Linked DNA regions of Homo sapiens. The protein of the gene in region 2 binds, or shares a complex with, the protein of the main gene of each other region. Links are inferred from orthologs where the notes say so. Each region holds a gene or a part of one and is shown on either strand. Other genes may lie near its edges.

Region 1 (14,633 bases), 6.6 Mb from region 2:
GTCTCACTTTGTTACCTAGGCTGATCTTGAACTCCAGGGCTCAAGCTGTCTTCCAGCCTCGGCCTCCCAAAGTGCTAGGATTATAGGTGTGAGCAACGACACCTGGCCAGATTGCATCATCTTGAGAAGTATTCTAATGGCGACACAGACAGCATCCCTGTTTGGTTTTTGTTGTTAGAAGCATCTCAAATACCACCAAGGAGCTTCTGCCTGGCCCTCAAGCCCTCCTTTCCCAAAAAGGCTACAATCTCTCAGCATCGCCTCTGATGGGCTTACAAGGCCAGGCCAAAAGGTGGAAGCAACCCAAGTGTCAGTGAATAGACAGTGTGGTATCTACACGCAGCGGAGTGAACAGACGGAGCGTGGCATGTACACGCAGTGGAGTGAATGGACAGAGTGGGGTATGTACACGCAGTGGAGTGAATAGATGGCGTGGTATGTACACGCAGTGGACTGTCATTTGGCCTTAAAAAGAAGGAAATTGGCTGAACGTGGTGGCTCACGCCTGTGATCCCAGCACTTTGGGAGGCCGAGGCGGGCGGATCACGAGGTCAGGAGATTGAGACCGTCCTGGCTAACACAGTGAAACTCCGTCTCTACTGAAAATACAAAAAAATTAGCCAGGCGTGGTGGCAGGCACCTGTAATCCCAGCTACTCGGGAGGCTGAGGCTGGAGAATGGCGTGAACCCGGGAGGTGGAGCTTGCAGTGAGCCAAGATCGCGCCACTGCACTCCAGCCTGGGCAACAGAGCAAGACTCTGTCTCAAAAAAAGAAAGAACTTTTGATATACGCTACGATATGGATGAACCTTGAGGACACTGTGCTGAGTGCAATAAGCCAGTTACACAAGGACAAATACTATGTGACTGCATTCATATGAGGTCCCTAGAGTCATCAAATCAGAGAGACAGAAACCGGAATGGTGGTGGCCAGGGGCTGGCGGAGGGGGAAGGGGGAGTGATGTAACAGGGACACGGGTTCAGCTTTGCAAGGTGGAAGGAGTTCCGGAGATGACGGTGGGGATGGCCGCATACAATGTGACTGTACCTAATGCCGATGACCTGTGCACTAAAAAAATGATTGAGAAGGTAAATTTTATGTCATATGTACTTTAGCACAATTTTTAAAATAATTATAATAGGCCAGGCGGGGTGGCTCCCGCCTGTAATCCTAGCACTTTGGGAGGCTGAGATCAGAAGTTTGAGACCAGCCTGGCCAACATGGCGAAACCTCATCTCTACTAAAAATACAAAAATTGGCAGGGCGTGGTTGCACTTGCCTGTAATCCCAGCTACTCGGGAGGCTGAGGCAGGAGAATCGCTTTAACCTGGGAGGCAGAGGGTGCAGGGAGGCAGAGGTTGCGGTGAGCCAAGATCACGCCACTGCACTCCAGCCTGGGGGACAGAGCAAGACTCCATCTCAAAACATATCTATAAAAATATAAAAAGTCCCATCCGAGGGCTGCCCTGGACTCTGGCCCCACCTGAGTCCTTGCTGGGTACCTTTCCCACGAGGCTGGGAAATGCTGGGAAATGAGCACATTTTCTTCCAAGTCCCCCACCTCAACCCACGAGGGTACAGGCCAGCCCTTCACTGGGGGCTTTTTGGAATCCAACTTCTTCTGGCACCTCAGGCTCCAAAGAAGCCTCTCCCCTGCCAGCTGCAGCCCCCACGCACCTTCAAACCACGGCGGGTCCTCAGCCCGGGTCTCGGCCGCGATGTTCTGGCTGACGTTGTGCAGGAGGTCAGCCAGCAGCCTCTGCCTCTGTGGGGCCTGCTCATCACACAGCAGCTGCTGGGCGGCCTGGATGAGCCCCACCTGTGGCTCGTGAAATGCACTGAGGAAGCGCCTGATGTCGCTCACATCTGCCACCAATGGGACAAACAAAAGGTGCCGGTCCAGCAGAAGACACATCCTGCCCCGGTCACAAGAAGAGCCTCTGACCACATCTTCCCCCATTCCCCAGGGCCTGGCAATCACCAGGACTCAGACTTGAGGTGTCCCGGGTCTTTGTCCTTGCCCTGACACCAACAGCTGGGGACCACGCACAAGGGCGGCATGAGGACAGAGGAGGGAGGGGCAGGGTGTGCTTTAGAGGACAGATGAAAGCGCACCAAGAGACGGCCGCTTTCCCATTTGGCCTCCTCCCCTCCAAACCATACGCCCCCCACTTTGGCCCTTCCTGGAGACCTTGCTTTCAGATCCTTCCGATCACTTTTCCTACTCTCTCCTGGAGCCTTTTCACAACTCCCTAAAGCAGCGAGCTCTCCGGGCAGGCTCTTAATAGGAAGTTAAAGCAAAGTCTACCCAGGACCTTAACAAAATGTTAGCAAAGAGAACTCAGTAACATGCACAAAGAAATATCACCACGGCCAAGTGGGAACGCAAGGCTGGTTCACACCTGCAAATCGATCAGTGCGATCCACCATATGAGAAAAGCCTCACGATCACATCAGTGGGTCAGAAGAAGACAGGAGGACATGCTGGGGAGTGAGGACTTGGTGGAAGTCCTTAGACCTAACATCAAAAGCACTGCGTAAAAGAGAAAATCAACACACTGAGCTTCCTCAAAACTAAAAACTCTTACTCCGCAAAAAAAAAAATGCTCTTAAGAGAATGAAAAGCCACAGGGTAAATATTTGCAAACCACATGTCTGACAAAGAACTCATGTCCAGGTATTTTGTTTGTGGGGTGAGGCGTGACTTTCAAAACTCAACAGTAAAAAAATAGATAAATAAGCCAATTAGAAAAAGGACAAGAGACAGGAAGAAACACTTCACCAAGGAGAATCTACAGATGGCAAATAAGCACATAAGAAGATATTTAGGGCTGGGCGCGGTGGCTCACGCCTGTAATCCCAGCACTTTCAGAGACCGAGGTGGGAGAATCACTTAAGGGCAGGAGTTTGAGACCAACCTGGCAACCAAGACCCCATCTCTAAAAAAAAAAGCAAGACCCCCATCTCTAAAAAAAATCATAATAATTAGCGGCACATGGGGGTGCACACCTGTAGTCCCAGTTACTTGGGAGGCTGAGGTAGGAGGATCGCTTGAGCCCAGGAGTTCAGGGTTGCAGTGAGCCATGATTGCCACTGCACTCCAACGTGGGCAACAGAGTGAGACCCTGTCTCTGTTTTTATAAAAGATATTCAGATAGTCAGCATTGTTAGCCATTAGGGAAATGCATATTAAGGGCACAACGAGACATCACCACACTGCAATCAGAATGGCTAAAATTAAAAACAGCAACAGCGCCGAAAGCTGGCGAGGCTGCACAGAAACTGCGCAGTGGAAAGGTAAGACGGCCACTCTAGCACACAACTTGGCAGTTTCTTTTCTTTATTTTAAGTAGCTTTATTGAAATATAATTCACACTCCTTATAATTCACCCATTTAAAGTGTACAATTCAGAGGCCGGGCGCGGTGGCTCACGCCTGTAATCCCAGCACTTTCGGAGGCCGAGGCAGGCAGATCACAAGGTCAGGAGATCGCGACCATCCTGGCCAACATGGTGAAACCCTGTCTCTACTAAAAATACAAAAATTAGCTGGGCGCAGTGGTGCATGCCTGTAACCCCAGCTACTCGGGAGGCTGAGGCAAGAGAATCGCTTGAACCCAGGAGGCAGAGGTTGCAGTGAGCCGAGATCGCGCCACTGTACTCCAGCCTGGGGAGAGAGCAAGACTTCATCTCAAAAAAAATAAATAAAATAAATAAAGTGTACAATACAATGGGTTTTATTATATTCCCAGAGTTGTGCAGCCACATCCACAGTCAATTTCAGAACATTTTCACCACCTCAAAAAGAAACCTCATACTCTTTAGCTACCAACCTCCCTCCCCTCTACCCTACCCCCAACCCTAAACAACCACTAATCTATTTTCCATCTCTCTAACATCCCCGTTCTGGGTATTTCCTATGAATGGAACCCTACTGTATGTGCAGGCTTCTTGACTTGGCATGGTTTCAAGGCTCGGCCATGCTGTGTTTCATTCCTCTTCATGGTGAGTACTTCCATTGTATGGATGTGCCACACTCTATTGATCCAAGTGTTCATCATTGGAGACTTAGGTGGTTTCTACCTTTTGGCTATTATGAATAAAGCTACTGTAAACGCTCACGGACGAGTTTTGGTGTGGACGTGTTTTCATTTCTCTTGGGTACATACCTAGGAGTGGAGCTGCTGGGTCACATGGCGATTCTGTGTAATTGTTGAGAAACTGCCAGACTATTTTCCACAGCAGCTGCACCGTTTTCCCTTCCCATCAATGGGGCCTGAGGGTTCCAGCCGCTCTGCATCCTCGCCCACACTGGTTGTTATCCTAGTGGGTGTGAAGTAGCATCTCACTGTGGTTTTGATTTGCAGTTCCCTGACGACTGATGATCTCAAGCACCTTTTCCTGTGCTTACGACCACTTGAATATCTTCCTTGGAGACATTTCTTTCTTTTCAGAACCTTTGCCCATGTTTAATTGGGTTATCTTTTTACTATTAAGTTATAAGGATTCTTTATATATTCTGATGCAAGTCCCGTATTAGATACATGATTGGCAACTATTTTGTCCTATTCTGTGGGCTGTCGTTCACTGCAGCCTCCACCTCCCCGGTTCAAGCAATTCTCCTGCCTCAGCCTCCTGAGTAGCTGGAATTACAGGCGCCTGCCACCACGCCCGGCTAATTTTTGTATTTTTAGTAGAGACGGGGTTTCACCATGTTGGCCAGGCTTGTCTCAACTCCTGACCTCAAGTGATCTGCCCGTCTCGGCCTCCCAAAGTGCTGGGATTACAGGCTTGAGCCACCGTGCCCGGGCCAGAGTTCTTAATGTTGATGAAGCCCAATTTATCTGTTTTTTCTTCTGCTGCTCATGTTTTTGGTGTCAAATCTAAGAATCTTTTGCCAAATCCAAGGCGATGAGGACTTATCGCTATGTTTTCTTCTAAGGGCTTTATATTTTTAACTTTTACATTTAGGTCTTTCATTTATTGTACTTTTTGTATAAGGTACCAGCTAAGAGTCCAACTTCATTCTTTTGTATGTGAATATACAGTTGTCCCAGCACTATCTGTTGAAGATACTACTCTTCCCCCTCCGTTGAATGGTCCTGGCATCCTGACCACAGATACATAGATTTCTGGGTGCTCTGTTCTATTCCATTGATCTATATATCTGTCCTTGTACCAGTGTCAGTCTTGATTACTGTGGCTTTGTACTAAGTTTTGAAATCAGAATATGTGGGTCCTCCTACTATCTTCTTTTTCACAGTCGTTTTGGCTATTCTGGGTCTCTTGCAATTCCATATGAACTGTGGATTAGAATCAGCATGTCAATTTCTACAATGAAACCAGCTGGAATTTTCATAGGGATTGTGTTGAATTTGTAGGTCAGTTTGGGGAGTCCCACCATCTTAACAATGTTAAGTTTTCCAATCCATGAACATGGGATGTTAATCCATTTATTCAAAACTTTAATTTCTTTCAACAACATTTTGCAGTTTTCAGAATATAAGTATTACAATTTTTTGTTACACTTATCCTAAGTATTTTATTCTTTTTGATGCCAGTGTAAATGGGATGATTTTCTGCTTCATTTTCAGATTGTTCGTTGGAAGTGTATTTCTATATTTGCATATGATCTTATATCCTTCAACCTTGCTAAACTTGATGATTAGTTCTAATCACTTTTTAGTGGATTCCTTAGGGTTTTCTACATACAAGTTCATATGATCTGCAAATAGAAATAGCTTCACTTCTTCCTTTCCAATCTGGATGCTTTTTATTTTTCTTGCCTAAATGTCCTGGCTAGACCCTGCAGTACCATGTTAAACAGAAGCAGCAAGAGTGGACATCCTTGTCTTCAGAAACTAAACACACACCACACAACGCAGCACTGTACTCCTGGGCATTCTCCCCAGAGGCATGAAAACCTACATCTCGCAAAAACCTGTCAAGATGGCCAGGTGCGGTGGCTCACGCCTGTAATCCCAACACTTTGGGAGGCCAAGGCGGGTAGATTGCTTGAGCCTAGGAGTTATAGGCCACCCTGGGCAACATGATGAAGCCCTGTTTCTACAGAAAATACAAAAATTAGCCAGGCATGGTGGTGCACCCCTGTAGTCCCAGCTACTCAGGGGCGGAGGTAGGAGGATCGCTTGAGCCCAGGAAGTGAAAGCTAGAGTGAGCTATGATTGCACCACTGCACTCCAGCCTGGGCGACAGGGTGAGACCCTGTCTCAAAAGAAAACAAGAAAGAAAAAAGAAAAACTTGTACATAATTGGCCAGAGCAGCTTCATTTGTAATAGTCAAAAACTGGAAACAAACAAAATATCTTTCCACAGGCGAATGGTTGAACAAACTGTGGTAAAACCAAACCATGGAATGCTACTCAGCAATGAAAAGGAACGGACTATGGATACACACAACTTACATGCATCTCGGGAGCCTTATGTGGAGTGAAAAAGGCTCATCTCAAAAGGTCACATACTTTATGATTCCACTTACCTAATATTCTTTTTTTTTTTTTTTTTGAGATGGAGTCTCAGCCTGTCACCCAGGCTAGAGTGCAATGGCACAATCTCAGCTCACTGCAACCTCCACCTGCTGGGCTCAAGCGATTCTCCTGCCTCAGCCTCCTGAGTAGCGAGATTACAAGCGCCCGCCACCATGCCCAGCTAATTTTTGTATTTTTAGTAGAGACGGGGTTTCACCATGTTGCCCAGGCTGGTCTTGAACTCCTGATCTCAGGTGATCCACCCACCTCGGCCTCCCAAAGTGCTGGGATTACAGGTGTAAGCCACCGCACCTGGCCCCTAATATTCTTTAAATGACAAAATTATAGACATGGAGAACATATCAGCAGTTGCTACGGGCTAGGGATTGCTGGTGGGCAGGGGTAGGCAGGATTATAAAGGGGAGAACCTTGAGTGATGGATGGGAGAGGGCTGTACCTTGACCCTGATGCTGGTCACAGGAATCTACATGGGGAGAAATGACAGAACAACATGCACATTGCACTAGTGTCGGTGTTCCTGTTTTATATTGTACCACGGTTGTATCTGATGTTGCCTTTGAGGGAAAGGGTAGAGGTACATTGGACCTTCCTATCTGTGCAACTTCCTGGGAATCTGTCATTATTTCTAAATAAACGGTTTAGGCCAGGCACAGTGGCTCATACCTGTAATCCCAGCACTTTAGGAGACCAAGGCAGGAGGACAGCTTGAGCCCAGGAGTGTGAGACTATCCTGGGAAACATGGCGAAACCCTATCTCTACAAAAAATACAAAACAATTAGCCAGACGTGGTAATGCATGCCTGTGGTCCCAGATACTTGGGAGGCTGAGGCAACGGGATCACTTGAAACACGGAGGTCGAGGCTACAGTGAGCAAGGTTTGTGCCACTGCACTCCAGCCTGGGCAACAAAGTTTCAAAATATAAATAAAACAAAAATATTTTGGCCAGGCACAGTGGCTCATGCCTGTAATCCCAGCACTTTGGGAAGCCAAAGTAGGAGGACTTCTTGAGCCCAGGAGTTTGAGGCCAGCCTGTGCAACAGAGGGAGACCCCATCTCAATGTTTTCATAAAAGAAAAGAAAAAAAATTTTTTTTAAGTCTAACAAGGAGGAGGACTAGCGGTCTCAGCGAAGAGAGGAGGATAAAGCGCCAGAGAAAGGAAGGACAGAGAGAGAGAGAGACAGAGACAGACAGAGAGAGCCAGAGACAGAGACAGAGGAGAGAGACAGAGACTGCGAGATGCAGGGAGAGACAGAGAGAGAGCAACGTGCTCTGCTGTCTTTCAACTATGCCCTGAAATGGGAAAGAAAGATAACATCCAAAGGTGAGGCATACCCTGAGCATACCCCTGCCCAGCCCCCACCTCCTGCAGGGGCCACCCCAGGGGGCATCACAGTGATACATTTTCCAGCTGCCTCCTCTAAAAGCACAAGGCCCAGTGGAGAAAGGGGGTTTGCAACCTTGGAGCACACACCAGAGGCGTCACCCCTCAATGCTGACAGTGGAGCCCCCAACACTGTAGCCGGGGAGGTGGCCACATGGATGTTACTCTTCGACTTCTCTCTTTTTGCCCCTTAGGCCAAGGAGCCACAGCTCCATCCCTCAGAGCACCCATGTCCTTCCTGGGCTGCCAGAAGCATCTCCTGGAGCCTGACCCCATTTGCACAACACTGGCCGACCCTCCCAGGTAAAGGCACATGATGGCATCTCCTGCCCCAGTGGCCAAAAGCTCTCTTTTACGGGAGTCAAACAAGCGCAGACCTTGGCATTCGGCTGGTTCTGAAAGGCAGGACTTTGTGTCCTGAGGCTTCAATACAGATGCCCCGAAAGAACCACCTCTCAAAGCAATTGCCCCCAAACTTGAGCCCTGAGGACAGCATCTTAGCAAACACCAACCGAGAACAATGTGAGAGCATCCCACGAACCACCACCTCGTCCTTCCAGAAGGGTGCTCAGCCCAGCAGAACAGAACAGCATCTCTTCCTGGCTCCACCTTCCCCATGAAACTGTGCAGGCCCCAACCCCAAAGCCCTCCCTCTGCTCTTGGGAATTGCTAGGACACCTCAAATGAACGCAAATAAAATTAAAAGATTTTTTGAAGAAAAAGACGACCAATTGAACAGCTGGGTTCATGAACGAGAGGACTGAGGACTCTGCCACCTAAGCGACGCTGACCAGTTCTGCCTCCAGAGGGCTTCCTCCTTGAGACCCGAGAGTTCACAGTAAGGGGGACTCTTCCCCACCCTGATGGGCACCTGGAGCTAAGCCCCCAGGACCTCGGAGAGTGCCAGCTTCCCGCCCACCTCCAAAGTCCTTGCCACTCACAGCCCTGCCAGGCCTGGCCCAAGGTGAGCAGCACCAGCTCGGCGTTGTCGGGAACACTGGGGAAGTAATCTTCCGTCAGCTCCGTGCCATCCTCGTACAGGCACAGCCGGGAACCGCGCTCAGGGAGCTGCAGGGACGGGAGAAGCAACAGGAGGAGGAAGGGTCTCAAGACGAGGGCTTTGCATCTGCAGGCCTCACAAACGACCGGAATGAGCTGTGCTTAAAGAAGCAGGCTCAGGCTGCCGCCTGTATGCCACAGTCGCTCCAACGCCCAGGCAAGGATGAGGGAGCGGGAGCAAGGGCGCCTGACTGCGGGCCGTTCTAAAATACGAAGAGTCAGGAAAAACATACATCAGGGGGTGACTGCTGGCTCTGCAGGATTCACCCTTTTTAAATGAGCTCCTGAGGGCGCTTCAAATAGAGCCTGTCTTTGACAGCGCCGCCTCCCTGCTGCCAGGAGCTGAACACCACCATCCCCAGCACACAGCCGCCAGAGCGGTGCTGGCACACGAAGGAGAACGGTTGGTTGCCTCTGTGCACAAGTGTGACCGGCACGTGGCACTGTTAATTTGTTGGAGTCCGGTTCCCTGTTACTCTGCACTGGTCAGTTTTAGGCATTTTATGGCTACTCCCACCCCACCCGCACCGACCCCGGCAATGCACACCTGGTAACCCTAGTACTGGTCTAAAAAGAAAACCAACCTAGAATAAGGTGACGATTGCAATCCCCAGCTGCGAGGGCTGGAAGGGGCCTGCAGAGCCCACCTAGCCAAGCCTTTCATGTTACTCAAGGGGAAGCTGAGGCCGGACAGGCAGAGCAGCCGTGACCCCGCGTGCCAGTACCTGGCACTCTACCCGGGTCTCCTAGCTCTGATGCAGGGCTGTCCTGCCCGAGAGGTGGGAAGAGGGAAGGGGTGATCCAGGTCGTCCCCCAACCCCCCTGCGTTCTGAAGCCACGCTCAGGAACCCCAGGCTGCGGGGGCCCGGGGTCCTAGCGGCTGAGGCGAACGAAAACTACCCGCCCCGGGCGCCGCCTGCACCCTCCGTTTTGGAAGAGGAAAAGCGGCACCTCCTATTCTCCCCACACGCCTCCCCGACGGGCCGTCCCCGCCTAGCCCAGCGGGCACCTGGAAGCGGAGACAGCCCTTGCGCAGCACCTCCTGGCAGCTCCGGCCAGCCACGCCGAACTTCCTCGGGCTGCGCAGGGCCCGCAGCTTCACGCTCTTGGGCTTCTGGAGCATTGCAGATGTCCTCAAGCCCTCTGGGTCCCACAGGCGGTGGCACCTGCTGCCCAGCTGCTCAGATCCGTCCTCGCCCTGGCCGCAGGGGTCTGCACCTGGTGAGCTCTGCAAGCTGGCACAGGCCGGGTGCCGATCCCGGAAACTACATTACCCAGAAGGCCTGGGAAAAGTGAGGCCCGACGCGGTCTTGTGCGCAGGCGTCGCCCCACGGACACCACATTACCTTACTCAGAAGGCTCAGGAAAGCAAAGGCGCGACGCCACCTGGTGTGCCCAGGTGCCGTGGCCCCGGAAACTACACAACCCTGAGGGCCAGAGTAGCGGAGCCCTCCCCTTGTGCGCAGGCGCGGCCTGGGGTGGGGCGGGGTCGCGCACGCGCAGAGGCCCTGGCCCAGGGCTGGGCTTGGTTGTCATGAGAGTGGAGGCTGCGGCCGGGGCTATGGGCAGAGGTGGCCGGGTCTGCTTCTTCCCTGTCACTGCCGCAGCAGCTTGGGGTGCAAGGCGGCCTGGGGCGGCGGAAGGGGCGCCCCCCGAGTTCCGTCTGAGGAAGCGGCGGCTGCCGAGGAAGTCCACGAGAGCCGGGTCCCGCACGCCCCTGGGGTCCGGGTGCTGAGGCGCCGCCTGGCCGCCTCCCCGGGCCGCGGCACCGCTCCGACCCAGCCGCCCTCTCCACCGGGGCCGCGGCAGCGCCAGTCGGGGCCCTTCCCTCTAAGCAGGTACCTTCCGGGCCGCTGCGGCGCCGGCCCAGGGCCGGAGTGGGGAGCGGGGCGCGGGGCGCGGGGCGCGGGCGCCGCGGGGGCGCGGTCCCCACCTGGGAGCTGGGTACGAAGCCTGGGTGCGCGGTGCAAGCGCGGACGGTGTGGAGTTAGATGCCGGCCTTGCTGTCGCCGAAGAGCCGGCGCGGCCCCGTCGTGCCGTATGCCGGGGAGCTCAGCACGGGTGCTGGGACCGCCTGCCCCGGCCGGGACGGCCCATTTAGCGTGGAATATTGTTTTCAGATCCGGCTTTTCCTCTTCTGGATGCGTAGCACATAGGGGGCCAGTTTCAGATGTGTTCTGCTGAGCAAAAGTTTGAGGAAAATTGCTCTGTCCCTATAGAGATTAAAGTCTGATGGTTGGTTGTTTTTTGTTTTGGAGTTTGTTTTGTTTTGTTTGCACTTAAGTTCAGATTTCTCTGAAGCCCTTTCAGTCGCTAAGATGACTTGATCAGAAACCCATAAGCCTTTGAGACGGTCTCGCTCTGTCGCCCAGGCTGGAGTGCAATGGCACGATCTCAGCTCACTGCAGCCTCCGCCTCCCGGGTTCAAGCGATTCTCCTGCCTCAGCCTCCCGAGTAGCCCGACTAATTTTTTTATTTTTAGTAGAGACGGGGTTTCACCATGTTGGCCAGGCTGGTCTCGAACTCCTGACCTCAAGTAATACGCCCTCCTCGGCCTCCCGAAGTGCTGGGATTACAGGCATGAGCCACCGCGCGCAGTCACACTTAAAAGTCTTCTTAAAAAGAAAATCAGAGACAAGTTTTGTTTCCTAGTCTTGTAACAAAATGGAAGTTGCTACACTGAGTTTCCGTTTAATTTATAGTTAATTGCCTTTTACCATGCCAGCACTAGGAAAAGTGTAGTGAGGGATGAGACCGCCATGGAGTCATCGCTGCCTGGGGAGAGATGTACTCTGGCATTTGTCGGGATGTCGATGGCTGCCCCTGGGACAACAGGGATCCCTCATGCCTCTGGTGAGGAAGACCAGCCAATAACTGGATGTTCAACAGAGCTTTGCTTCTTCCCAAATTGTTAATGGTGATTTTTATAGAGCCTAAAAGTGGCATCCTTCAGTGACATTCCAAGTATCTTATGTAACACTTGAAGGTTTACACAGAGGGGACCCTAGGGTACAACTGGAAGGTCTTTGGGAGGGGGTAGACTAAAAAAGGAATCCTTTTCAAATACCAGACTGAGGTAATAGCATTGCCTCCACAGTCCCTGTGCATTTCTCTTAGCTGGTTCTTAAATGCCAGTACTTTGTTTTAGATTTGTTGGGGGCAGTATAGCATACTGGAAACACCCTTCTGTTTGACTGAAAAGGTCCTATATTTATGTCTTCGAGCCGTAACAGAGAGTGTTGGTTAGGTTCAGAGACTAGCCAGGCTCGGCGGCTCACGCCTGTAATCCCAACACTTTGGGACACTAAGGTGGGAGGAGTTCAAGACCAGCCTAGACAACACAGTGAAACCCCATCCCTACAAAAAAAAAAAAAAAAAGTAGCTGTGCATGGTGGCATGTGCCTGTAGTCCTAGCTGCTCAGGAGGCTGAGACAAGAGGATCATTTGAGCCCGAGAGTTCATGGTTACAGTGAGCTATGATCACGCCACTGCAGCAGTACAGCCTGGGCAACAGAGCGAGAACCTGTATTAAAAAAAAAAAAAAAAAAAAAATCGGGGCTGGGCTTATTGGCCACGCCTGTAATCCCAACACTTTGGGAGGCTGAGGCGGGTGGATCACCTAAGGTCAGGAGTTCGAGACCAGCCTGGCCAACATGGTGAAACCCCATCTCTACTAAAAATACAAAAATTAGCTGGGTGTGGTGGTGCGCACCTGTAATACTAGCTACTTGGGAGGCTGAGGCGGGAGAATCACTTGAACCCAGGAGGCAGAGGTCGCAGTGAGCCGCGATCACGCCACTGCACTCCAGCCTGGGTGACAGAGTGAGACCCTCTCTCAAAAAAAAAAAAAAAAAAATTTGGAGACTGGAACCCAACAGCCTGGGCACAAGAGGTATTTTCAAGGTGGAATAGGGAGTGACAAGCCCTGCCCTGAAAGATGATGAAAGGGGCCTGGCATGGTGGCTTATGCCTGTAATCCCAGCACTTTGGGAGGCCAAGGCGGGCAGATTGGCCAGGAGTTCGAGACCAGCCTGGCCAACATGGCAAAACCCCGTCTCTACTAAAATACCAAAAAAAAAAAAAAAAAAAAATTAGCCAGGCATGGTGGTGCATGCCTGTAATCCCAGCTACTTGAGAGGCTGAACCACAAGAATCACATGAACCAGGGAGACAGAGGTTACAATGAGCCCAGATCACGCCACTGCACTCCAGCCTGGGTGATAGATTGAGACTCTTGTCTCAAAAAAGGAAAAAAAGCTGATGAAAGGATTGGAGGGCTTCAGAGCTGAAGGGTATTAACTTTGAGCTTTGATTGTTTGGCTGGACTTCAGAATTCAGGACAAGAAGTGAGGGTCAGGGGAGAGTTGGCGCATTGATCCCTAGATGGGGAGCCCACCAAGAGCTCTGGAGTTAGGACATGGATGGAGATGACTGGAGCTGGGCCTGAGGCACGTTCACACAATAGGAACTTAGGACTTGTCTGAGGGAGGCGCTTCAGGTGGGGACACCAGGTGGTTGCTGTCTAGAAAAGACAGTGGGATCAGAAGGAAGGGCAGGCCTGATAAGACCTGGCACACTGTTGGATGGGGAGTGGGTGAAGAGAGATGCTGTGGCCAAGGGAAAAGTACCTCTAGGCTCAGAGCCCATGCGACCCAGAAGTGCCAGGTCACGAAGGAGTGGGAGCCATGGGCTGTGCGTTTCTGGCATAGGTTGCCCAGAGTGCAGGTGGGGCCGTGCAGCTAACAGTGGGTTAAATCACACTCATCCTTTCAAAATTCTTTTTTTGTTTGGTTTTTTAGAAACGGGGTCTCACTCTCTTACCCAGGCTGGTCTCGAACTCCTGGGCTCAAGTGATCCTTCCACCTCGGTCTCCCAAAGTGCTGAGATTATAGGCAGGAACCACCACACCCAGCCTCATCCTGTTCTGGGGGGCTTTTTAAAAATTATTTTCTGAGTTGGTTTAGTTTTGTTTTTGTTTAATATACAGTAACATCTTGCAGTGAACTTTGTGCAAAAAATAACTAGAATCTCGATGGTTTATCATTCTATTTTAGTGCTTTTGTTCATACATTCCAAGAAACATTAGCAATAATGCCAGCCAATAATTAATATATTGAAGTGGTCCTCTTCGAATTCTCAATGAAAGTAAAAGAAAGATCTAGATCATGCATCAAGCATGTCAAAATACGTACAGTTTTATGTGGGGGTATGTTTATATGTTACCTCCTATTGGGAATTTCAATTAATAGTATATCTTATCCCAGAGAACTTTCTGATGGAGTCTTCTTTATCCTGGTTTAGTGAGGAGCCTTTTTTTTTTTCCCCCGATGATTTAGACCTAACCCAAATTGGCTTACTTAGGAGGAATCTGACTGGCTTAGTAACTGAAAAGTAACCCAGAGTCCCTGAGCAAATTGGGCTCAATGTCCTGTGAGTCAGTCCCTCAACCTAACTCTGCATGAACCTTTTTGTACTTAATATGCCTGCCTGTCATTCCTGCTCTTCCTTCTGGTCATACACATTCATTTAGCAGTTGTTAATGCTAGCGCTTACGTTGCCTTTTTCCCCTTGGTATTGTATAACTAATTAACATACTGGTTGTATTAGTTTCCTAACTAATAGAAAGAAGTTTGTGTTTATATTCTAGACATAGCAAAATATCATAAACTAGATGGCTTAAA
Region 2 (14,949 bases):
AAAAAAAAAAAAAAAAAAAAATCCACAGGTAATTCTGCTTCGTGACGAGGGTTGAAAAATTACTCTAGGTGAGAATGAGAAGATGAAAAATCTTAGTTGTAATTTAAGAATTATTTAAAAATTAAGATTAAAACAAAGAAATTGCTATGGCAAGTATGGAAGCTAAGAAGGTGCTGGGGCGGGGGGCAGAGGCTGGATGAACATTGTTGCAGGTTGTGGAGGAGGCTTTACCTGGAGGTCCTCCTCTGATAGGAGGATGATGCTGGACAGATCTTCTTTCAGCTGCCTGGCCACATTCTTCCACTTCAACCCTGCCCCGCTGTCTGTTTCATCTACATCAAAGGACTCTTGGGAAATCCAAGCTGTACCTCCATCTGACACATGGGAGAAAATGCCAGTCACAGAACAACCTGAAGTGCTGTTTTCACCTCCTCCCCCAGCACACACAGACCTCTTGAGGATCTAGATTAATTTCAATGGGAAAGAAGCATCTTATCTCAAGGATTCACAGGAGGGTCAATATCCATCCAGGACCTTGATTTTCCCTCTTCTTTCATTTTTTTTTTTTTTGAGACAGAGTCTCACTCTGTTGCCCAGGCTGGAGTGCAGTGGCACGATCTTGGCTCACTGCAACCTCCACTGCCCGAGTTCAAGCGATTCTCCTGCCTCAGCCTTGCAAGTAGCTGGGATTACAGGTGCCCACCACCATGACCAGCTAATTTTGGTATTTTTAGTAGAGACGGGCTTTCACCATGTTGGCCAGGCTGGTCTCAAACTCCTGACTTCAAGTGATCTGCCCACCTCGGTCTCCCAAAGTGCTGGGATTACAGGCATAAGCCACCGTGCCTGACCCTCTTTCATCTTTATCTCTGTGTGCAACGGCTCTGTATTCTTCCATAGAAAAAGCCATTTAAACCCAATGTGTGGTCACACCTACAAGGAATCCAATCACACTTCCCTTTCTGGTTTCTGTGTGTCCAGGTGTGTCCTGTTTTTTATACGAAAACGGTCATTTGTGCCAGCATTTCTCTGTGCTTGGGGATTGGTCCCTTCTTTAACTGGCAGAGCTGTAGCCATCGATTGCTGTCCCTTAGGCCTGAGCACAAAGGTGGCTGGTAGGGCCACTGCTGTAGGATGACTTCCTCAATTTTGTGGCACACTTCAGGACACTTTTTTTTTTTTTAAGTCCCTCCCTAAAACTAATCCCCTCTCAAGACACTTCTTGATCCTTGGTCACCAATGTTAGTCCCCTTTCTATCTCCTGTGATGATGATGATGGCAGGGACAGGTAACAATTATTGAGTCCTTAACTATGTGCCAGGTAAGATCTAAACACTTCATATCAGTGGTTCTCAAGTGGGAGCAATTTTGCCCCCCAGGAGACATCTGACAATATCTGGAGTCATTTATTCTTGGTTATCACAGTTGTGGGGGGAGGTTCGTAACATCTAGGATGCTACTAAACGTCCTATCATACACAAAGCATCCTCTTCACAACTCCAGCCCCAAATGTCAGCAGTGTCATTGAGAAACCCTGGTTTGATATGTACTATATTATCTTTACAACAATCTTAGGGGACAGGTTCTATAATTATTATGTCAACAAGGCACTGAGAAGTTATGTAATTTGCACAAGGTCACCTGGTTAGTAAATGGTAGAGCCAGGATCCAGACCTCAACAGCTGGACTGCAGCCTGCAGCACTGAGCTCCCTGCCAGGCTGCATTTCAGTTGCTGTCTGTCCATGAGTTAGTTGAGAACTGGGCCCATGTCTCATTCATCTATTTTTTTTTTTTTTTGAGACAGAGTCTCGTTCTGTCGCCCAGGCTGGAGTGCAGTGGCACAATCTCAGCTCACTGCAACCTCCACCTCCCAGGTTCAAGCAATTCTCCCGCCTCAGCCTCCCAAGTATCTGGGATTACAGGTGCCTGCCACCATGCTCAGCTAGTTTTTGTATTTTCAGTAGAGATGGACTTTCGCCATGTTGGCCAGGCTGGTCTCAAACTCCTGAGCTCAGGTGATCTGCCCACCGTGCCTGGCCTCATTCATCTTTATCCCCAGGACTCAGCACCATGTCTGGCACATAGAAAGTGCTCAGTAAATATCTGTTGAACAAATGCTTAAAAAGCCAGACAAATGGCAATTGTCTGTGCAGTGAAAGTAATCATGATGGATGCTGTACTGCATAGGCCGTTTTATACATGGCTAGAGTTTCTTACCTGAATTGTTGTATGCCCATTTCTCATTACTAGCCAATGCCACAAACTTAGTATTGGAAGGTAGACACAGAAAGTAATCGTCATCATCCACTATGGTGCCATCCTCTGCCAGGACCAGGGTGACTGGTGTCAGGGACTTATCAATGGCCAGAATGTCACAGGCTGAAAAGAATAAAATATTTGGCAAATGACAAATAACCGTAAGGAAATTACATCTATCCCTGCATCTCAAGTATGTATGGCTCCAGAGCTGAGCAGAACTCCTGGTAGGTAATAACTAGAATCACAATCATCACTTCTAGCACTACCAGAACACTCATCACGTGCCTGATTCTGTTCTAAGTGTTCTTTTCTTTTTTTTTGTAGCAGGGTCTCACTCTGTTACCCAGGCTGCAGTGCACTGGCGCGATCTCGGCTCACTGAAACCTCTGCCTCCCAGGTTCAAGTGATTTTCCTGCCTCAGCCTCCCGAGTAGTTGGGATTATAGGCGTGCACCACCATGTCCGGCTAATTTTTGTATTTTTAGTAGAGACGTGGTTTCACCATGTTGACCAGGCTGGTCTCGAACTCCTGACCTCATGATCCACCCGCCTTGGCCTCCCAAAGTGCTGGGATTAGAGGCATGAGCCACTGTGCTCAGCCCTAAGTGCTTTTCTTTCTTTCTTTTTTTTTTTTTTTGAGACAGGCTGGCGTGCAGTAGTACAATCTTGGTTCACAGCAACCTCCGCCTCCCGGGTTCAAGCAACTCTCTGCCTTAGTCTCCCGAGTAGCTGGGACTACAGGCACCGGCCACCGTGCCTGGCTAATTTTTGTATTTTTAGTAGAGACGGGGTTTCACCATCTTGGCCAGTCTGGTCTGGAACTCCCGACTTAATGATCTACCTGCCTCGGCCTCCCAAAGTGCTAGGATTACAGGCATGAGCAACCGCGCCTGGCCTAAGTGCTTTTCATATACAGTATTTAATCTCATAATAATCCTGTAAAGTAGGTACTTTTATTAGTTCTGTTTTATAGATGATGAACCCAAGGCTCAGAGAGGTTAAGTAACTTGTCTAAGATCACACAGTAAGTGGCAAAGCTGGGATTTAAACCCACAAAGTCTGGCTCCTGAAAGTATGTTTACTCCAGCTACTCCACACTCATGTATGGTAGGCATTTGAGTTTTTACTGGAGTGAACAACCAATCAAAGTCTAGTTTGATTCCTTGCAAACAAGCAGTCTCTCATTCATTTATTCAGTTTTCCTCTTTTTTTTTTTTTTTTTTTTGAGACGGAGTCTCACTCTGTCGCCCAGGCTGGAGTGCCCAGGCGCTATCTGGGCTCACTGCAAGCTCCGCCCCCCGGGTTCACGCCATTCTCCTGCTTCAGCCTCCGGAGTAGCTGGGATTACAGGCGCCCACCACCACGCCCGGCTAATTTTTTTGTATTTTTAGTAGAGACGGGGTTTCACCGTGTTAGCCAGGATGGTCTCGATCTCCTGACCTCGTGATCCGCCCACCTCGGCCTCCCAAAGTGCTGGGATTACAGGTGTGAGCCACCGGACCCGGCCCTCAGGTGTCCTCTTAAATTCTCCTATGTGTAAAAATGTCAAAAAATACACCAAAAAGGCCAGGCACGGTGGCTCACGTCTGTAATCCCAGCACTTTGGGAGGCCGAGGCGGGTGGATCACAAAGCAGGCAATCGAGACCATCCTGGCTAACATGGTGAAAAACCGTCTCTGCTAAAAAATACAAAAAATTAGATGGGCGTGGTGGTGGGCGCCTGTAGTCCCAGCTACTCGGGAGGCTGAAGCAGGAGAATGGAGTGAACCCGGGAGGCGGAGCTTGCAGTGAGCCGAGATAGCGCCACTGCACTCCAGCCTGGGTGACAGAGTGACACTCCGTCTCAAAAAAAAAAAAAAAAAAAGAAAATGCTTTTTGTTCTTTACAGTATCTTCCTTAGCAGCTTCTTTTCTAACCTATGGGAAAGTATAAAAGAAGTGGAAGCTTCTATCAGTAGCTTTTCATATCATTATCATTGGCGGAGAGGCTTTCTCCAGGACAGGTCTGTACTATTCCATTTAGTGATAGCAATGCTTCAAATACTAACGGGACTGGAGTGATCAGAAATAGCCAAGAGACTACAAATATCCTTCAGCGGTGTTGTCTACCACCCAATAGAACAGCAAGGCATGTATGCGCTGGACTGCAGAGAACACCAGCCTCTGTGCCACGCACATCCAGCCACGGCACTGAAGGGGAATTAGAAGTAAAGTAATCTAATGTCAGGAAAAAAAATACATAAATGCTTATATGCAAAATCCATGTTACCAAAGCATTTATAATGCTTTGGCTGTTCATGGGTCTCTGAAAATTTCCATATGATTTCTGTTGGTGACTGAGAGGAAGCAACTGTGCCCTCTGACACACACTGTGACTACATGCCTGGGGCTGGCTCACACATGTAACCTGTAAAACTTCTTTGGGTAAGCGATTTGTTGCTACTGGCTAATAAGACTTGTAAGTCACTTAAATATATCATCTTATTTGAGAGAACCAACAACCCTTTGAAGCAGGGCTATAAATATTATACCCAATTTGCTGATGAGAAAACTGAGGGTTGAGAGCTGGTTAAGTGCAAGGCCAAGCAGCTGGTAAAGGTATGGGGCCGGGCTCGGAACTTCCGTCGGCTCCGTCACTTACAACTCACGTTCCTTGTCTGGACCTCCAGAAATGGTCAGTAGCAGCTCCCTCTTTCCTGCATAGGTTCCTGCCAGAGCGGACGGTGGAAACCCCTCCCCACACCGCCGTGGGCTCAGCTGGGGGTTCTTGTACCATCTGAGTGTGGCGGAGTGGCAGGAACCCAGTGGGGTCCGTTTGGTCCAACATCGAAGTGATTTCAGGCAAGAGACCTAAGCCGAGTCTGGCTTAATTTGCACATTGCTTCCTGGCTGTCTTCCCACCACCGTGGAGTCTCACACGAGATTAATTACGCTCAAGCGCCTTAAATCTGTAAATCGCTATGCCCACTCGGACCGTTTCTGTCCCAAGCCTCCACCCGAGATACAAGAATCCCCAAGTCGCCTCTCCTGACCCCGCCTCGCCCCCGCCGGACGTCCTCACCCGGCCCTGGCTCCCCCACACCCTCGCCCGGGGTCCCGAGCCAACCCTTGCTCCTCAGGTCTTCGAGGCAGGAGGCGGCCACGCCGTGCTGTTCGCGGCTGTAGTTGCGGCGCAGCAGACACGGCTTTAGAGTCCGGATCTCGCCAGATTCTGGTACCCCGGCGTCCCCGGTCACCTCCATCCTCCACAAGGTGGGACCTGCCCACCTTCGAGAAGTCGCGGGAGGCCGGAGCGGCGGTCCTTCTACTCGACCCCCTTCCGCAGCCTGCCGGGAGATGTAGTTCGTTCCGCAGCAAATCACACGTGAGACCAGGGCACGCCGGGAAATGTAGTTCTAGTTGCCGCTAATCACGTGTGGCGTCGAAGCATGCCGGAAACTGTAGTCTCTGGGTTTAAAGCCGCTTTCGTTCTATCGCGCGATTCAGCCTAGGAGTTGTTTTTAACTTTTAGGAGCTGCATTCGCGCGTTCAAATATAAGGCCAATAGAGACTTATTTTGCATGACGATGCACACGCATGTATACTGTATTGAATTTTTAGAGCATTCCTATTCGCATATGAGATGCATAATGCTAATACAGACACCCGCATGTTTCCACCCATTCTATTTCCTGCTTCAACTGTGCAAATTAGTTTGGGGTCTCAGAACAAAACGCTTAAATAAATATAGTAAGCATTAAAGTCTCAAATGCATCGGAGAGGAAAGGGGAAATGCGACTCGGCACTGTTGGAGATTGTTCAGATGCCTCTTGACAACATATTCATCTTTGTTTTAATACTGCTACTATGGAAAAGTTTGTTTTTTTCCTCCTGAAAAATAAACATCTAAGATTAAAAGAATAGTAATAAAAATGATCAAAAAGTTCCTCTCTTAAAAGAGGGCATTTTATGTAAACTAGAAGTAATTATCTGCTCATATTTATTCATTCGGGGGACACTTTCCTTCCTTGTTTCTTTTTTCTTTTTTTGAGACAGCGTTTCGCTCTGTCTCCCAGGCTGGAGTGCAGTGGCGCGATGATGGCTCACTGCAGTTTTGATCTCCTGGGCTCAAGCAATCCTCCCACCTCATATTTTGTTTATAAAAACGTGGGCAAGGGCCCCGGGGGCGGTGGCTCACCCCTGTAATCTCAGCACTTTAGGAGGCCGAGGCGGACAGATGATCTGAGGTCAGTAGTTTGAGACCAGCCTGGCCAGCATGGTGAAACCCTATCTCTACTAAAAATACAAAAATTAGCCGGGCGTGATGGCGCACGCCTGTAGTCCCAGCTCTTGGGAGGCTGAGGCAGGTGAATCGCTTGAACCCGGGAGGCGGAGGTTGCAGTCGGCCCAGATCGCACCATTGCACTCCAGCCTGGGCGTCAGGAGCAAGACTTCGTCTCAAGCAAAAACAAAAACAAAAGCAAAAACAAACAAAAAAAACGTGGGAGAGGAAATTGGATATTATCTCAAGAAAAGTTTAGACATTTAAAACAGCGTTTAGTAGGAGGAATTATTCATTAAGTCATCCCTTTTAAGCAGTCTATATTGATCAAAACACAACTATAATAGGAGCTGGCGGTTAACTCTAATGTATGTATCCTTTTTCATATAATTTCATTTTTTATTTTCTTATCTTATTTTTAGACAAGGTCTCGCTCTGTCGCCCAGGCTGGAGTGCAGTGGCATAATCATAGTTCACTGCAGCCTCAACCTCCTGGGCTCAAGGGATCCTCCTGCCTTGGCCTCCTAAAGTGTTGGGATTACAGGTGTGAGCCACTGCTCCCGTCCAATATTTAATTTAAAATCTAACAATTAAAAAAATCTAACAATTCAACCAGTGTAAAATAATGACGTTTTGTAGAAGCCTCTTCTCTTCAAAATGCCCCCTTTTATGTTCTCCCAATAGACCTGCACACTTATCCGAGTCCTATCCCCATAATACTGTAATTGTAAGTGTGTTTGGCCTGGGCGTGGGAGTAGGGATTGAGTCTTGAATGTTTTTATTTCAAGGCCTACCAAAGTCCCTAGCATATAGTAGGCACTCAATGAATGGAACTGAACTGATGTCTAAAAATTAATTTCCAAGTTTCTTCGCATTCATCCATTGGCAAGTCCCTAAATGTGCCCATGGCACTGTGGGGATGGGCAGAGATTAACTCAATAAGAATAATATGGGCCGGGCGCTGTGGCTCACTTCTGTAATCCCAACACTTTGGGAGGCCGAGGCGGGCAGATCACCTGAGGTCGGGAGTTCGAGAGCAGCCTGACCAACATGGAGAAACTCCATCTCTACTAAAAATACAATGTTAGCCGGGCATGGTGGCGCATGCCTGCAATCCCAGCTACTCGGGAGGCTGAGGCAGGAGAATCACTTGAAACCGGGAGGCTGAGGTTGCGGTGAGCCGATATCGCGCCATTGCACTCCAGCCTAGGCAACAAGTGCGAAACTCCGTCTCAAAAAAAAAAAGCAAAACCAGAATAATACACATATAACAACGCAAAGAAGATATAGACTTGGGATCTTCCTGGAAAGCAGAGTCTTAACGGAAACTATGCAAGGTGACCCGGACACCCGGGCTCCACCCCTCTGCCCCAGTCCCCTACATCGACAGGCTCTGTTCCGGCTACCTTAGTCTGGGCGGGAGGGCGAGAGCGAGGGCGCCTGGGAGAAACCTCGCCCAGCGGCGGTTGATTAGTCAGGCCTCAGAAAGATGGCGTCCTCGGAGCAGGCAGAGCAGCCGAGCCAGGTAAGGGGAGTGGGACTGCCCCGCTGTGCGGCGGAGACCCCGGCTGGAGGGGGCGCTCAGCATACGGCTGGGAGCCGGGTAGGGACCCCGAGTCTCCGAAGCTGGGGACCCCGACCTCTTGCCCCCTCCTGAGCCCCGCCCCTCCCCAGGTCCTCCCCACCCGGCCCCTCCCCCCGGTGACCCCTCTTTGACCACATTCCGGAGCCCGGGCTCTGGTGTTTGGCTGTGCCCCCGGGTCCCCACTTCCCGCCTGCCAGCACCTCTGGTCCCACTTGAGCTTGTTGGGGAGGGTGACGGGACCCTTGGGAAGTCCCCAGCCTTGAGCTGCGAGGGCTTGAGAAGGAGAGGATAGATCGATCGTTCCCGGCTGTCCCCTCCGGGGAGGGGCCTGTTTCCATTAGGGTTCCCACTCCCTCACGGCCTCAGCCTCCTGGAGCGGCTGCCAGCCTCTTCATCTGTGGTCACCTTTGCGCTTCTCTCGTCAAGTTGGATAGTCAGAAATAATCTAGTCGAGCCCTCTCAGTGCGTTGATAGGAAAGGGACGCACTGTGACTAACAGACGCCACCAAGCTTTTGGCTGAGGACCCATCCTCGCTTCCCTGGGTTTGGTTTTGTTGGCCGAGGGCTCCGCTCTAGCTTTTCACCTGCAGATTCAGACAAATCCCACTCCAATAAGGGGACCATAAGGACCAGCGTTGACGCCTGTGCCTCTGCGGCCGGGAGGCAGTGGATGATAAGGTCTCCGAAGGGGTTTATAGTCCAAAGGTGGGGTAGGGTGGGGTGAGGAGAAAAGGGCTAAGAGACATCTTACATTTAACTGCCTGTGTGGTGTCATGTTGAGCACAAATTACATCTATTATCTCGTTTAGTGTTCACTACAACCTTTATGAAGTGCAGGCTACTAACCTCCATTTCACAGAAATGAATACTAAGGGTTTGTGACATGCCCCAAATCGTGTGCTCTGTTGAGCCTGTATTGAACCTGTGTGACTCCACTAGTCATCCATACATTTTTGAGTTTAGTTAGGATTAGAATGAGGAAGAAGAAAATAGTTTCAACTTGGGGCCTCATTCCTCCTCTCCCATCTCCTTGAAGCACCTCTAAGAGTTTTCAGCAACTTACTAGTATTTCACTTCCTTCAGAGGCAGAAGACCACCGCTTAGTGTTTCTTACTGTCTTATTCTGCACGTCTGTTACAAGAATTGAACTTAAAGGAGTTGGTGTGTTCCCCCATACCAGTTTCTATTAGCAGTGTGAATGATTCAGGAAGAAGATGTCTTGATTGTAAAACATGGGAGATAACAAGGACTGATTCTGGCCTTCTCACTGTCAGGTGTTCTGGAGTTTGGCAAGTGTCTCGAGAGGAGGGCCTCTCCTTTCTTGCCTTACCACATTTAGTTTGCTGAAATACTAAGGCATCTTGGGGTCTGGGTTTCTCTGAATTGTTTTGTGTTAGGAATGCCCACAGGCTGGGATTGAAGGGTGTCCTCAGTTCCTGATTCTTTTTTCTTTCTTAAGACGGAGTCTCTCTCTGTCGCCCATGCTGGAGTGCATTGGCGCAATCTCGGCTCACTGCCTCCCGGGTTCGAGCAATTCTCCTGCCTCAGCCTCCCAAGTAGCTGGGACTACGGGTGCCTGCCACCACACCTGACTAATTTTTGTAATTTTAGTAGCGATAGGTTTCACCATGTTGGCCAGGCTGGTCTTAAACTCCTGACTTCAAGTGATCTGCCCGCCTCAGCCTCCCAAAGTGCTGAGATTATATGCGTGAGCCACCGTGCCCGGCTCTGTTCCTGATTCTTATAGGACATTTAATTTGCCAGTGCTGTAAACAGTACTAAAAATCTTGCCACTTGGAGCCACTGTTATGCCCAAGGATTCTTTTGGTTTTGCAAGTTTGCCCTCTCTGTATATGTATTTAATAGAAAAGGATCTAAGGTCCTTTAAGGGGGCATGGCCATCACTTGTTTGATTTTCAGCTCTGCTTCTCCTTTGCCCTCCTTTCCAAAGCTGGTGGAGGTAGGATTGCCACAGAACATGCTGGCAGCCTGGGGGAAAAACTTGAACTTTTCTTTTTTTTTTTTTGAGACAGAGTCTCGCTGTGTCACCCAGGCTGGAGTGCAGTGGCGCGATCTCTGCTCACTGCAACCTCCGCCTCCTGGGTTCACGCCATTCTCCTGCCTCAGCCTCCCTAGTAGCTGGGACTACAGGCGCCCGCCACCATGCCCAGCTAATTTTTTGTGTTTTTAGTAGAGATGGGGTTTCACCGTGTTAGCCAGGATGGTCTTGATCTCCTGACCTCATGATCCGCCCACCTCAGCCTCCCAAAGTGCTGGGATTACAGGCGTGAGCTGCAGTGCCTGGCCAAAACTTGAACTTTTCATAACAGACTCTATGGCTATCTAACAAGAAGCAAATGCACGCTTTTTGAATGAACCAATGCTCTTCAGCAATTGCCTGTTTCATTTTCAAGTCTTGATCAATCCAGTTTCCCATTTCTCCGATTAAAGCAGAGTAGGATTGAAAGGATTGTTTAGCTAATTCCCCCACGCCTTGTTGTGTAGGGTTAGAACTGTGGGGCTGAGCCAGTATTCTGTCTTTCACAGAAAGTTTGTTGGTTAGCCTTGTCATATCAATCTCTGGTTTCCAGCTATTAAAGGTGAATAACCTTCTCTTCCCTTGAGAGGCAGTGTAGAATAGCGGTTACAAGTATAGGCTCTAAAGCCAGACCCACTGGCTTGGAATCCTAACTCCACTAACTTACCAGCAATGTCATCTCGGACAGATCTACTTAATTTTTCTAGACTTAATTTCTCCATGTGCAAAACAGGGAAAATACTAGGACCTATCTCACAGAGTTGCTCTGAGGACTAAATGAGTTATTTATTTATTTATTTATTTTTGAGACCGAGTCTCACTCTGTTGACCAGGCTGGAGTGCAGTGGCGCGATCTCGGCTTACTGCAACCTCCGCCTCCCAGGTTCAAGTGATTCTCCTGCCTCAGCCTCCCAAGTAGCTGGGGCTACAGGTATGCACCACCAGGCCTGGCTAATTTTTTTTTTTAAGTAGAAATGGGGTTTCACCATATTGGACAAGCTGGTCTCAAACTCCTGACCTCAGGTAACCTGCCCACCTCGGCCTCCCAAAGAGCTTGGTATTACAGGCGTGAGCCACTGCACCTGGCCTTAAATGAGTTATTTATGTAAAAATGCCAGAACAGTGCCTGAAACAATGTGTTGTCTATTATTATTATTATTCAATTTAATAAGCTCTGAGTTTTCACTCACAAATGGATCTAAACCTTTCTTCAAGTTCTATTACGACATCTTTTGGGGTATGATTTTTCATGTGTTGACTACTTGTCTAGTAAAGTTCTTTTATTCAGAAGTAATTCCTTAAAATTTCAAGGAATGCCCTGAATGCTAGTGTTTATTCTAGCTGTCCTTCATGACTTTTGCATTTCAGGAACATACTTACTTTTTCATAATGGTATAGTCTTTTTAGTCTATCCTCAAGACGACTTGCTGGAATTTCATTTATTGCTTCCTTTGTTCTGTGTTCCCCACATTGCTCTGTTTTATGTGGTTGATCTATTGATTGAGACAGGGTCTCACTCTGTCACCAGAGTGCGGTGGTGTGATCATGGCTCACTGCATCCTTGCCCGCCCAGGCTCAGGCAATCCTTTCGTCTCAGCCTCCTGAGTAACCGGGACTACAGGTGTGCACCACCATGCCTGGCTAATGTATTTTTTTTTTTTTTGAGACAGAGTCTCGCTCTGTCGCCCAGGCTGGAGTGCAGTGGTGCGATCTCAACTCACTGCAAGCTCCGCCTCTCGGGTTCGAACCATTCTCCTGCCTCAGCCTCCAGAGTAGCTGGGACTACAGGCACCTGCCACCACGCCCGGCTATTTTTTTTTTATTTCATTTTTAGTAGAGACGATGTTTCACCGTATTAGCCAGGATGGTCTCGATCTCCTGACCTCGTGATCCGCCCACCTCGGCCTCCCAAAGTGCTGGGATTACAGGTGTGAGCCACTGTGCCTGGCCTGGCTAATGTATTTTTAAAACAATTTTTGTAGTGGTGAGTTCCTGGCTGGGCGTGATGGCTCATACCTGTAATCTTAGCACTTTGGGAGGCTGAGTTGGGAGGATCGCTTGAGGCCAGGAGTTTGAGACCAGCCTTTGCAATATAGGGAGACCTCGTTCCTACTGAAAATTAAAAAATTAGCCAGGCATGGTAGTGCTTGCCTGTGGTTCCAGCTACTTTGGAGGCTGAGGTGAGAGCATCACTTGGGCCTGGGAGGTTGAGGCTGCAGTGAGCGGTGATTGTGCCATTGCCCTCCAGCCTGGGTGAGAGAGCAATACCCTGTTTGGGGACGGGGGAAGAGACAGAGAGAGAGAAAGTGCTGAGATTATAAGCATGAGCCACCACGCCCAGCCAGCATGGCTGATCTCTCATTGAAGTCCTTTCTAGTGTGTACACGTTGGAGCCCGTAGGAATGAGAAACGTTATCTCTATTTCCCAACTTTCCTACTAGCTTTTCTTCCTTCGCTGAACAGCAGAGGCATGGTTCAATCTGATTACTTCACAGTTACTGAGTATCGAGTATTATTGCAGAAGGTAGATTTCCTATCTGTGGAGGTTCACTGGGTACAGTAAATTTTGCATTGAGAGGCTACAGAAGCAGGCAGGGAGAAGAGCAGAGTGAAAGAGTGGAAGAGCATGGCTTCGCATCCTGGCAGGTTTTGGTGGAACTTCATCACTCACAACTATTGGACTTATCACTCCACCTTTCTGAGTATGTTTTCTCCTCTGTAAAACGAGAGCAATAATAGTTACCCTTAAAGCTGGGTGTGGTGGTGCATGTCTGTAGTTCCAGCTACTCAGGAGACTGAGGCTGGAGGATTGCTTGAGCCCAGGAGTTGGAGTCTGTAGTGCACGATGATCACATATGTGAATAAACCCCTGTACTCCAGCCTGGGCAACAGAGTGCAACCCTATCACTTAAAAAATAAATAAATAAAATAAAAAATAATTACCCTTTTAGTGTTGACTGAAATCACAGATGTGAAGAGCACCTGCTGCATAGTAAGTGCTCAGAGTTAGTTTTCTTCTCCCAGTCTTTACATGTAGTTTTGAGAGTCTGTTGAACTCTTGAATAACAGCAGGTCAGACAAGGTATTTGCCCTCTCAATGTTTTTTTTTTTTGTTTTGTTTTGTTTTTGAGATGGAGTCTCCCTCTGTTGCCCAGGCTGGAGTACAGTGGCTCAATCTCGGCTCACTGCAACCTCAGCCTCCCAGGTTCAAGCGGTTCTCCTGCTTCACCTGCCTCAGCCTCCTGAGTAGCTGAGACTACAGGTGTGTGCCACTACGCCTGGCTAACTTTTTTTTTTTTTTTTTTTTTTTTGAGACGGAGTCTTGCTCTGTCTCCCGATCTGGAGTACAGTGGCACAATCTCGGCTCACTGCAACCTCTGCCTCCTGGGTTCAAGCGATTCTCCTGTCTCAGCCTCCTGAGTAGCTGGGACTACAGGTGCCCGCCACCATGCCCAGCTAATTTTTTTGTATTTTTAGTAGAGATGGGGTTTTGCCATGTTGGCCAGGCTAGTCTTGAATGCTTGACCTCAGGTGATCCACCTGCCTCGGCCTCCCACAGTGTTGGGATTACAGGTGTGAGCCTGGCACCTGGCCTCAACTTTTTATTTTGAAAAATTTCTCACGTATAGAAAAGTTGAAAGGATAATACTGAGAACTTCTGTAAAATTCCCATAAAAACTTAACCAAGATGCACTGTTCACATTTTGCTGAATTTGCTTTATGTCAGTCTCTCTCTCTCTTTCTCTCTCTCTCTCTCTCTATATATATATTTTTTTTTTTGGAAGGATTTGTGGTAAGTTACAGACATCAAGGATATTTCATCCTAGAATATTTCACCTTATCTCTCATAAGAGTAAGGTTATTCCCCTGTATAACCACAATATCATTATCACACAAGAAATTTAAGTGTTGATAAATAGTATTATTTAAAACAGAATCTGCACTCAAATTTTCACACTTAAAAAAAATCAGAATCTAGTGAAGAAACAGAGATTGCATTGATTTGTCTCTTTAGTCTTTTTTTTTTTTCCTTTCCTTCCTTTTTTTTTTTGTTTGAGACAGAGTCTTGCTCTGTTGCCCAGGCTGGAGTGCAGTGGTGCAATCTTGGCTCACTACAACCTCCGCTTCCTGGGTTCAAGCAATTCTCCTGTCTCAGCTTCCCAAGTAGCTGGAATTACAGGTGCCCGCCACCATGCCTGGCTAATTTTTTTGTATTTTTAATAGAGACAGGGTTTTGCCATGTTGGCCGGGATGGTCTCGAACCCCTGACCTCAAGTGATCCACCCACCTCGGCCTCCCACAGTGCTGGGAGCCACCGCGTCCAGCCTTAAACTTTGTTTGTTTGTTTGTTTGTTTTTTGAGACAGGGTCTTACTCTGTCACCCAGTCTGGAGTGGAGAGGTGTTATCACAGCTCACTGTAGCCTTGACCTCCTGGGTTCAAGTGATCCTCCAGCCTCAGCCTCCCGAGTAGCTGGGACTATAGTCATGCACTATGATGCCCAGCTAATTATTTTTTGTAGAGGTCGGGTCTCGCTGTGTCGCCCAGGCTGGTCTTGAACTCCTGACCTCAAGTGAGCCTCCCACCTCAGTCTCCCAGGCTTCTTTTACTTAACACATATTTTTGAGATTCATTCATGATGAGAACAGTGACAGTTTATTATCACTGCTTTATACAGTTATTGTATGAATGTGTTTGGCCATTTATTATTAACCATTCTACTCTTTTTTTTTTTTTTTTTTGAGACAATGCCTGGCTCTGTTGCCCAGGCTGGAGTGCAGTGGTACGATTTCGGCTCACTGCAAACT

What was found.
Region 1: the proteins of DFFA (region 2) and DFFB are in contact, whole or in part, in an NMR structure (PDB 1F2R), measured with the Mus musculus proteins. The link is inferred for Homo sapiens from one-to-one orthologs. Residues at the interface, in NP_001020467.1 of Mus musculus: Asp66, Thr68, Ile69, Val70, Asp71, Asp72, Asp74, Tyr75, Trp94, Tyr96, Asp100; in NP_031885.3 of Mus musculus: Cys10, Lys12, Arg14, Ala19, Cys20, Lys21, Phe22, Gly23, Val24, Ala25, Ala26, Arg39.

The regions. Positions count from the first base shown.
Region 1 is NC_000001.11:3,853,046-3,867,678, reverse strand, and holds the start of DFFB (DNA fragmentation factor subunit beta), read right to left. Parts: upstream 10,204-14,633; 5' UTR 10,076-10,203; coding exon 9,962-10,075; intron 8,962-9,961; coding exon 8,835-8,961; coding exon of another isoform or gene 8,813-8,834; intron 7,260-8,812; exon of another isoform or gene 7,173-7,259; intron 2,037-7,172; exon of another isoform or gene 1,962-2,036; coding exon of another isoform or gene 1,868-1,961; coding exon 1,679-1,867; intron 1,396-1,678; coding exon of another isoform or gene 1,376-1,395; exon of another isoform or gene 1,277-1,375; intron 1-1,276. Other genes in the region: CEP104 (centrosomal protein of 104 kDa), read left to right, coding at 11,712-11,805. UniProt on the Homo sapiens protein: Nuclease that induces DNA fragmentation and chromatin condensation during apoptosis. Degrades naked DNA and induces apoptotic morphology.
Region 2 is NC_000001.11:10,466,959-10,481,907, forward strand, and holds the start of DFFA (DNA fragmentation factor subunit alpha), read right to left. Parts: upstream 5,572-14,949; 5' UTR 5,501-5,571; coding exon 5,365-5,500; intron 2,381-5,364; coding exon 2,219-2,380; intron 375-2,218; coding exon 232-374; intron 1-231. Other genes in the region: peroxisomal membrane protein PEX14, read left to right, coding at 8,009-8,122. UniProt on the Homo sapiens protein: Inhibitor of the caspase-activated DNase (DFF40).